Linked DNA regions of Homo sapiens. The protein of the gene in region 3 purifies or fractionates together with the protein of the main gene of each other region. This does not show direct contact. Each region holds a gene or a part of one and is shown on either strand. Other genes may lie near its edges. The genes, in order: AMD1, STK3 and ADCYAP1.

Region 1 (2,380 bases), on a different chromosome or scaffold from region 3:
CTGTTTTTAATGAAAATTGAGGAAATATTTTCTAACGGAAGCATATTCTGAGAAAGATCAGAATATACATTTTCATAAGATTTTTCAGCTTATTACATATTTGACTGTGGAACTAAAATGTTGCCAAATAAAGAAAATGACAAAGCCAAGTGTGATGGCAGAACCCTGCATTCCCAGCTACTTGGGAAGCTGCAGCAAGACTGCTTGAGCCTAGGAGTTCAAGGAAGCAGTATGCTATGATCGCACCTGTTAACAGCCACGGCACTCCAGCCTAGACAACAGAACAAGATCCTAAATTAAAAAAAATAAAGAAAATGATCAAGGTTATAAATTTTTTTCTACTTAATAGAAATAACCATGAATGAAATAAGGAAACTTATTTGAGTTTGATCATCCTCAACCAATGTTTTAAGAGTCTAGTCTATAATAAAGGTTGGGACCTAACACTTTTAAACTTCTGTCTAACTCCAAACTCATAAATACACATTGTTGTATTGATTTTAAACTTCAGACATGTAGTATTTGGTCAAGTAGGCTACTTAAAAAACAGGGCAACAGAAAAGTTTCTGAATGTCACTAGACAATTAAACTTTTATTGAAGCGTAAATTGTGGTACAGAAATACATTTCAACTGATTTAAGTCCAACACCAGTGAAAGGAGAAATTATGGCACCAAAACTTTCCCTCTTCTATCATACGATGATTTAGATTATGATTCAAACTACATTTCTCTTTTCTAGGCTTTGTCCCATAAAAATTTGTGCAGTTTTTCAACATTAGAATTCTTAATTCTATTGGAAACAAAACAAAACAAAACAAAACAAAAACAAAACCAAACCAGACCTCAAGTCAACAAATCTATTGGGATATTGTTTACGAACAAAGTCCACCTTAAGCATTGGTCCTCAAAACAGAGCTCCTCAAAATATTAGGTGCTGTGCTCATTACAGAATCAAACTGATCACACTGATTGAAAACTTCCTCAATGAAATTTTCAATCAACAACATGCTTCAAATAAAAGTCAAACAGTGTTCCAACCACTTGATTTCAAACCAAGTAGATTTTAGGTTTAGAAACACTAAAAAAAGGTGTTTCATTTATAAATACGGAAGGAACAAAAACATCACTGCATCAATCCAGAAATTATCAAAATATTTAGAGGACAAGAAATATAAAATTTAGTCAACTTTGCTGTTTTCTCAGTTCCTTAAAATCCCAGAGAATCTGCAAATATAGCTAAAAGGTACCAACTCTTGAAAGCCTATATTACTAGTCATTTCCCATTGAGTATTTTGGAATTTTATTATTCTATTTATTCATATTCTACTTATTTATAATGTATTCTGCTTTATGATGTTTATCTGAATAATCTGGACAAATTCTCATTCTGGGCAGTCATTCATTTCATCCTATGAATGCCATGGTAAGGGAAACACCGTAGTTAAGAGGAACAGATGAAGTCGGAACACTCACATGCATCACAGTCACAGAACTTTAAGTCACGAGATGGAAAAGACATTGATTCTGCTTTGGATCAAAGTTTATAGAACACTACTTAATGGAAACTAGTGGAAATGGCTGCTAAAGGAAAAGTTAAGGTGAATGATCCAAGCTGACTTGATTTACTGAATCCAGAACAAAATTATGCTAAATCTCTCTGGTAATTAACTAAATAAAAATGATTTTATACTACTACTAAGTTAGTAAAGGGGTGCTACTCATTAGACGCTAATCTCATTTACTGAGGAACACAGAATTGTATGTTTTCCACAGTTCAGCCAGTACACCCTAATCTCAATCTACAACTCTGGGTCTTCCCTGCTAACCAACTATTTTCCAAAAGAGCACATTACAATAAAAGAGAGGCTAAATTCCCATGCCCTTTAAAGAATATTAAGCCCAGGGACCATCTCCCCCATTCCCCATCTGGGGTATAGAATTAGTATATAAACCCACAGTGTTAACAGTGTATTGCTTTATTTGGGGTCTTGGGGGAGACACCAGGGAGAGGGAAGAAATCAAAGGACTATAAATGCAGGGTCCAATAATGTTAAAATAGCAAATATGCAAAATGAGTAACTGGAATCATTTTCTTAAGGACTCAACTCATGGAAGAAAAACTTTAATTGCTGTTTCCAAAAACATCAGTATGAAGTAGAAATTGGTTTCAATAACATTAGTAAAGAATATGTTCTAGAAAGTGGAGGTAACTGGATGTAAAATTCTGGCAGCAATTTAATAGAACAGTCCTAGAGGGTTAGGCTGAGGCCAACACCTAATGAGGACGAAAGCCTTGTCTGTGGGGAATTTTGGATGATACTTGGAGAAATATTACACTGTGCATAAACCAAATTGAGTTGCTTTCACAAGTGTTGTAAA
Region 2 (3,665 bases), on a different chromosome or scaffold from region 3:
TGAGACAGGGTCTTGCTCTGTTGCCCAGGATGGAATGCATCCACACAATCATGGCTCATTGCAGCCTCAATCTCCTGAGCTCAAGCAATTGTCCCACCTCTACCTCCCATTTATGTAAATGTGTGGGTCTGTACTGAGTCTCAGTATCAATGAATTTTTTTTTTTAAATGTTGAAAGCCAGTAATATATGATGGCCTGAAGTGTTCCTAGAGTCAACTAAAGACTGAGTTTCTCTAGTTGACATGCAACAGAAGTTTGTTTACCGGAAGTATTGCAAATTTTATTGTCGCACTCCCTCTCTCCAAGAAGGAAGAGCCAACTGACTATTCCCATCAGCACGGCCTAAAGCAATCCTAATCAAGTTAATGCCACCCTAAATTAACCAAGAAAAGCCAAAGGGAAGACAGCAGATGCTTTAGGGACCAAGTTGTTAATTCAGAGATGCTCCTGTTTGGTTGGTTCTTTTCCCCTTGGACTAACTACTTTGAATATTTTGTCCACTTGCCTACCTCTAGAATTGGAAATTTTCCCTAGGGCCTTCCTCTGAGTCTGCTGGGGTTTTTTTAAGAGTTCTTAGAGTTCATCTTCTCAAAGACAACTCCAGCTCTCTATTTAGTCAATCTCTCTGATATACACACAATTTTACTTTCCAACATTCCAAGGAAACATAAATTAGAAATATACACATAAAATGACATCCACCCCTCTTCTCCCTGCAATAATATCTTTGTGATATTCCTACTATCTACTTAACTGGTGTGTTGCTTTCTCTCACCCACTTCCATTCATAAGCGCTGAGAGTTATCTGCTATCTCTCTCCATTCCTAATTCCTGGCCTGAGATCCGGGCTACAGATGCTACAAGTTGATGTGGGCTCTTCATGCTGAAGAATTCATGAGTACTTTCTGCTTAACTCCTCTATATTCTCAACCCGATCCCTTTGCTTTTTCTTTCCATAATAATCTGTTTTCTGATGGGTAATCCATCCAAACACTCATTTGCCCTTATGAAATTAGTGTTTTCTAGCTTTCCATTTGCGTGAAGGACCCCTAACATATGACTTCAACCTTCAATTTTATTTCCCCCAAACTACCCTTTCACACTATTAAAAATAATAATAAAAAATTGCCACAGAATCCAACTATAGCTTAAATTAAAGAACTCACCTGTCTTGAGAGTAAGTATGCTTCAATAGCTTATTCTTTTACTATCCTTTTAGTGTTTTCATTGTTCAATGCTAACCTGCCCTCCAACCATACCTTAATCAACGAATTACACATTTTAAATAACTACTAACACTATAACCTATTTGAGGAACAAGCCTATCTGGTAAAGTGTCTCACTCCAGCAGTGATATTCTGTCCTCTCTTTGACAAGTATTAAATATATTTTCATGCTGCCCACCTGTCTATCATAGAGACCCACCTCCCTTCTATGAAGGTTCCACCTGGTGAAGAGCCCATGTTTTCTGGTCATTTACCTTTCTACCTATCAAAGCTGGACTATTATGTGGTCATTTTTCTCTCAGCTAGCAGTTCCCCTATAAAAAATCCAATAAATTCGGCTGCGCGGTAACTCAAGCCTGTAATCCCAGCACTTTGGGAGGCCAAGGCGGGTGGATCACGAGGTCATGAGATCGAGACCATCCTGGCTAACACGGTAAAACCCCATCTCTACTAAAAATACAAAAAAGTTAACCTGGTGTGGTGGCAGGCGCCTGCAGTCCCAGCTACTCAGGAGGGTGAGGCAGGATAATGGCGTGAACCTGGGAGGCGGAGCTCGCAGTGAGCCGAGATTGTGCCACTGCACTCCAGCCTGGGCAACAGAGCAAGATTCCACCTCAAAAAAAATAATAAAATAATAAAATAAATCCAACAAATTCCATCTAACCAAAATGCTAATTAATGATCATTTAATAAAGGAGTCCCCAACTCCTTTACAGCACAATACAGTGGACCAGTACTGGTCCATGGCCTGTTAGGAACCAGGCAACACAGCAGGAGGTGAGCTATACGCGAGCATTACCGCCCTTGCTCTGGGCTCCAGCTCCTGTCAGATCATCAGTAGCATTAGATTCTCATAGGAGTGCGAACCCTATTGTGCTGTGCATGCAAGGAATCTAGGTTGCACGCTCCTTATGATAATCTAACTATTGCCTGATGATCTGAGGTGGAAGTTTCATCCTGAAACCATTTCGCCCCCAACCAAACCATCTGTGCAAAAATTGTTTCCCACGAGACTGGTCCCTGGTGCCAAAATGGTTGGGGATCTATGATTTAATGAATTTCCCTTCCCAGAGGGAAATCCTTTTAATAACGACTTTGGCCAGCTTGGGCAACATGGCAAGACCTCATCTCTACAAATTAAAAAAAAAAAAAATTAGGTATGGTGGTGCGTGCTTGTGGTCCCAGCTAATCAGGGAGGCTGAGGTGAGAGGATCACCTGAGCACAGGGAGGTCAAGGCTGCAGTGAGCCATGATTGTGCCACTGCACTCCAGCCAGGGCGATAGAGTAAGACCCAATCTCAAAAAAAAAAAAAAAGTTAAAAAGAAAAAAAAGGACTTCTGAAGACCTCAGTGACAAGTATGTTAACGAAATCTAAGGAATCTAAAAACTACTCTGGTACCTCAAGTTGGTGACATGGGTGACCACATCTATTGCCTATGTTTAACACAAACCTTGTTAAGGAGACCAAATCAATGAATATGAGGGTGAGAGGTGCCTTAAAAATCATCTAGGTCTCTGAGTCATGATTCTTGAACTGGGCTACACACTGGAATCTCCAACTCCCAGAGGAGAAGAAGATGCCCAAAGAAGCAAATTTCAAAGTCAGTGACAAGGCCAGGCCTAATACCCATGCCTAACATTATGTGTTGATATGTGTACATACATACATATATATATACACACACATACATACACACACACACATACACACACACATATATATGTAACATACTAAAAATATAAAGGCATGTATGGGAAGGACAAATATCCAATTCATGTCAGTGATTACCTTTTGGGGGATGGGAAGGGAGTGTAATTGAGAAGAAATACACATGGTGGCTTCAAATGTATTGGTAATATTTTTATTAATATTTCTTAAACTGGATGGTAATACCTAAGTATCTATTAAATTAGGCTCTGTTCTTTTTTCTTTTTGTTTTGTTTTTATTTTTATTTTTGTTTCTTTGAGACAGGGTCTCACTTTGTCATCCAGGATAGAGTGCAGTGGCACAATCATAGCTCACTGAAACCTCCCACTGCTGGGCTCAAGCAATCCTCCCACCTCAGCCCCACAAAGTGCTGAGATTACAAGGCGTGCACCATCGCAGTAGGCCCTCATTATCTTCTGGATATCTAAAATTTTGTAATAAAATAGAATAAAAAGATGGTATATAATCAAATGTATATCACATTAGGAATTCAGTGAAATATCTCAGGCTAGAAAGTACTCAGAAAACATACTTGATGAGGTAGGCTTTGATGGAAGAATAAAACATAGATTATTCTTCAGGCAAAAAGTAACACAAACTTTTCTAAAGGAAAAATGTGAATAAAGGTAAAGCTGGGAGTACCCACAGCCTATAACATAAATAAAGAACAACGGGGGCCAGGCACGGTGGTTCATGCCTGTAATCCCAGCACTTTAGGTGGCCGAGGCA
Region 3 (2,566 bases):
AAGTTTAGTCTGCAGAGTTACTTGTATAAGAACAATGTTAGATCCCTATTTTAGGCTGGGTGTGGTGGCTCACGCCTGTAATCCCAGCACTTTGGGAGGCTGAGGTGGGAGGATCGCTTGAGCAAGACCAGCCTGGGCAACATAGTGAGACCTGGCCACTAAAATAAAAAATAAAAGAACAATGTTAGATTGCTATTTTAGATGTGTAACTAATGCTCCAGCATTGTCTCCCACTACTACCTAGTAACTTTCTGAATATTGAGCAAAGTATATACACACTAGGGGATGGAAATTAATCTAAATTGTGTGTCTTATAATGTTGCAACATCATGCCTGTTTATGAGCTTAAAACCTTCTTAGGCATCTCCATCTGAGTAGCTACTTTAAATTTTTAGCAGAATCCAGTTGCCCATCAATTATTAAAGTGCAGTTCATGAAAATACAAGGGTGCTTAGATAGATATATATTCCAGACGTAAAAAAATCTTATGGTTGCTAAAGAAATATAATACTTTAAGAGATTTTAAAGTAATTATTTCCTGAATGTCTTTTTTCCCAAACATTAGACCAAGTTGCATTGTTTACAAAAATTTATTCATACAAATTTTACACACTTTATATAACAGTTATCAAAGTCCTAGTTATAGATATCATGTGTGTAATAATACTTGGTTAAGGTGTTTTTATAATCAGTTGCACACAAAATAAGAGCTTCAAGACTAACATCTACCTAAATTATCACTATATCATAAATCTGCTTCAGTTTAGTAAGGCTCTTGGCATTTCTAAAAAGTATACAAAAGATTAAACTGGGTGATCACTGTAAAATGCTTGCAACTAGCCACGGGAACACTAAATTAGACTTCATAAATAAAAGGTTAACTAGAGCCCTATTTCACCACTAACAGCTGATACAAATACAGAAAACTCTGCCCATTATCCAAGAAACAAATAATTAAGACTAAAATGCAAGCTGATGTGTTGCAGCATTGTAGGGCCACTAAATAGCCATCTGTGATTCGTGGCAATTTAAAAGGCGAAGAAAGGCACTAAAGCTGCAAACTGCATCCCGTGTCACATTGCCTGAGGAGACTGCGGAATTAAAGGAAGATTGATCCTATACACAGGACTCAGGCATAGACCGAATGCCTCTGTTTTCACTATTTGCAATGTGATCTCCTGGCAGCATCCATCCCGCCTGGGAATGCAAATCCAATTCTGTTTTCTTTGATTTATGACTTCATACTGATCAAATCCGTAAAGGAAAAGGAAAGGTCCTTTAAACTTTACAAGCTAACGTTTAATCTTTCCTTGTTCTTTTTTTTTTCTTCTTCTTCATCTTCTTTTTTCAAAACATAAAAAAATAAATAAATAAACTTGTGCCTGAAATTTGGGAGATTGGCTGGCTGGTTTGTCTGTTGCTGCTCGATCTGATTGCTGGGTGAAGGTTCTTTTGTTTATAAAGATTACTCTGTATGTTCAAAGAATTGACAGGAAACAGACATGCTTTCTTTAGCCAAAGAAAGGATACAAGCGTAGGTTCTCAGGGTCTGTTGGAGCTTGCTTACCTCACTCTTGACCACAGATATAAGATAGTACTCATACATATGAAGAAGAGGATTAAATGATTTATCAGTTAGCAAAACTGAGCAACATGTGAACACTACACATTCTAATATGACAAAGGTTGGTTTTATGAAATAAATTTTACTAAGCAATAAGCAATAATGTAGAAAAATACATTTTACCTACAAACTCAATAAACAAGAAACAAAGGGTTCATATTTAGTGCATAATTACTTACTAGTGGCTACAGAGGGGTTTCTAAAATTTACAATAAGTGCCTGCATCAAACAAAAAAAAAAAGTGAGAAGCATTCACAAGTTTAAGAGAAGTGAATGAAAAATGGTAAACAGTACTTAAACAGTGCAGGAGGGTAGGAAGGAGAGGTCTCCATAAAACCACAAAGGAAAAGGGTAGCTCCTACAGAGCAGGTTTCAAAGGAGAGGATCCTGGCCATTTCACAAGATGAGAAGCATGGACAGCACTGGAGAAAAACACATTGTACTTTGCATCCATTTCCAATACCCAGCGCCCAAAGTCAGGACCATTGGGACTGGATTTGCCCTCAGCTTCCCAGACCTGGGGCAATCTCAAACCAGTCCATTTCCAGGGTCCTCCTCCTACCACCTCAGGCTCTGCCTCTTCCAATATACCTCTATGTCCTTCACTTTGTTCCAATTGCCCTAATTTGGGGATATTAGATTCCCTGGCCACTCAGGAAGTACAGAAAAGAGAGCGGTCTAACGAAGCCGCCCTTTTCTGTACAGTTCCTCAACTCTTCTCCTAGGGAGAGGCGTGAATTCTGGGGAGAAGCACAATTTGGATCGAGCTGTTGTTTTATCAGGAGAATTTTCTTCTGGGCTGAGAGTCTGAAGAGAGACAACTACACATAAAAGGAGAATCAAAGAAAGCAGAAATATTGGAATTGCCACCCAACCAGGGGGACAGAGCCCAGTTGAGTTAGGCTGGGATTGAAGCAGCCTGCCCCAGAGACTCACTGGGAA

What was found.
Region 1: the proteins of ADCYAP1 (region 3) and AMD1 purify together in Homo sapiens (affinity purification with mass spectrometry; 3 studies listed by BioGRID and IntAct, with this or other methods). This does not show direct contact.
Region 2: the proteins of ADCYAP1 (region 3) and STK3 purify together in Homo sapiens (affinity purification with mass spectrometry; 4 studies listed by BioGRID and IntAct, with this or other methods). This does not show direct contact.

Annotation. Positions count from the first base shown.
Region 1 is NC_000006.12:110,893,897-110,896,276, reverse strand, and holds the end of AMD1 (S-adenosylmethionine decarboxylase proenzyme), read right to left. Parts: 3' UTR 564-2,380; downstream 1-563.
Region 2 is NC_000008.11:98,819,136-98,822,800, forward strand, and holds part of STK3 (serine/threonine-protein kinase 3), read right to left. Parts: intron 1-3,665. UniProt on the Homo sapiens protein: Stress-activated, pro-apoptotic kinase which, following caspase-cleavage, enters the nucleus and induces chromatin condensation followed by internucleosomal DNA fragmentation.
Region 3 is NC_000018.10:910,178-912,743, reverse strand, and holds the end of ADCYAP1 (pituitary adenylate cyclase-activating polypeptide preproprotein), read right to left. Parts: 3' UTR 572-2,566; downstream 1-571. UniProt on the Homo sapiens protein: PACAP is a neuropeptide involved in diverse array of physiological processes through activating the PACAP subfamily of class B1 G protein-coupled receptors: VIP receptor 1 (VIPR1), VIP receptor 2 (VIPR2), and PACAP type I receptor (ADCYAP1R1).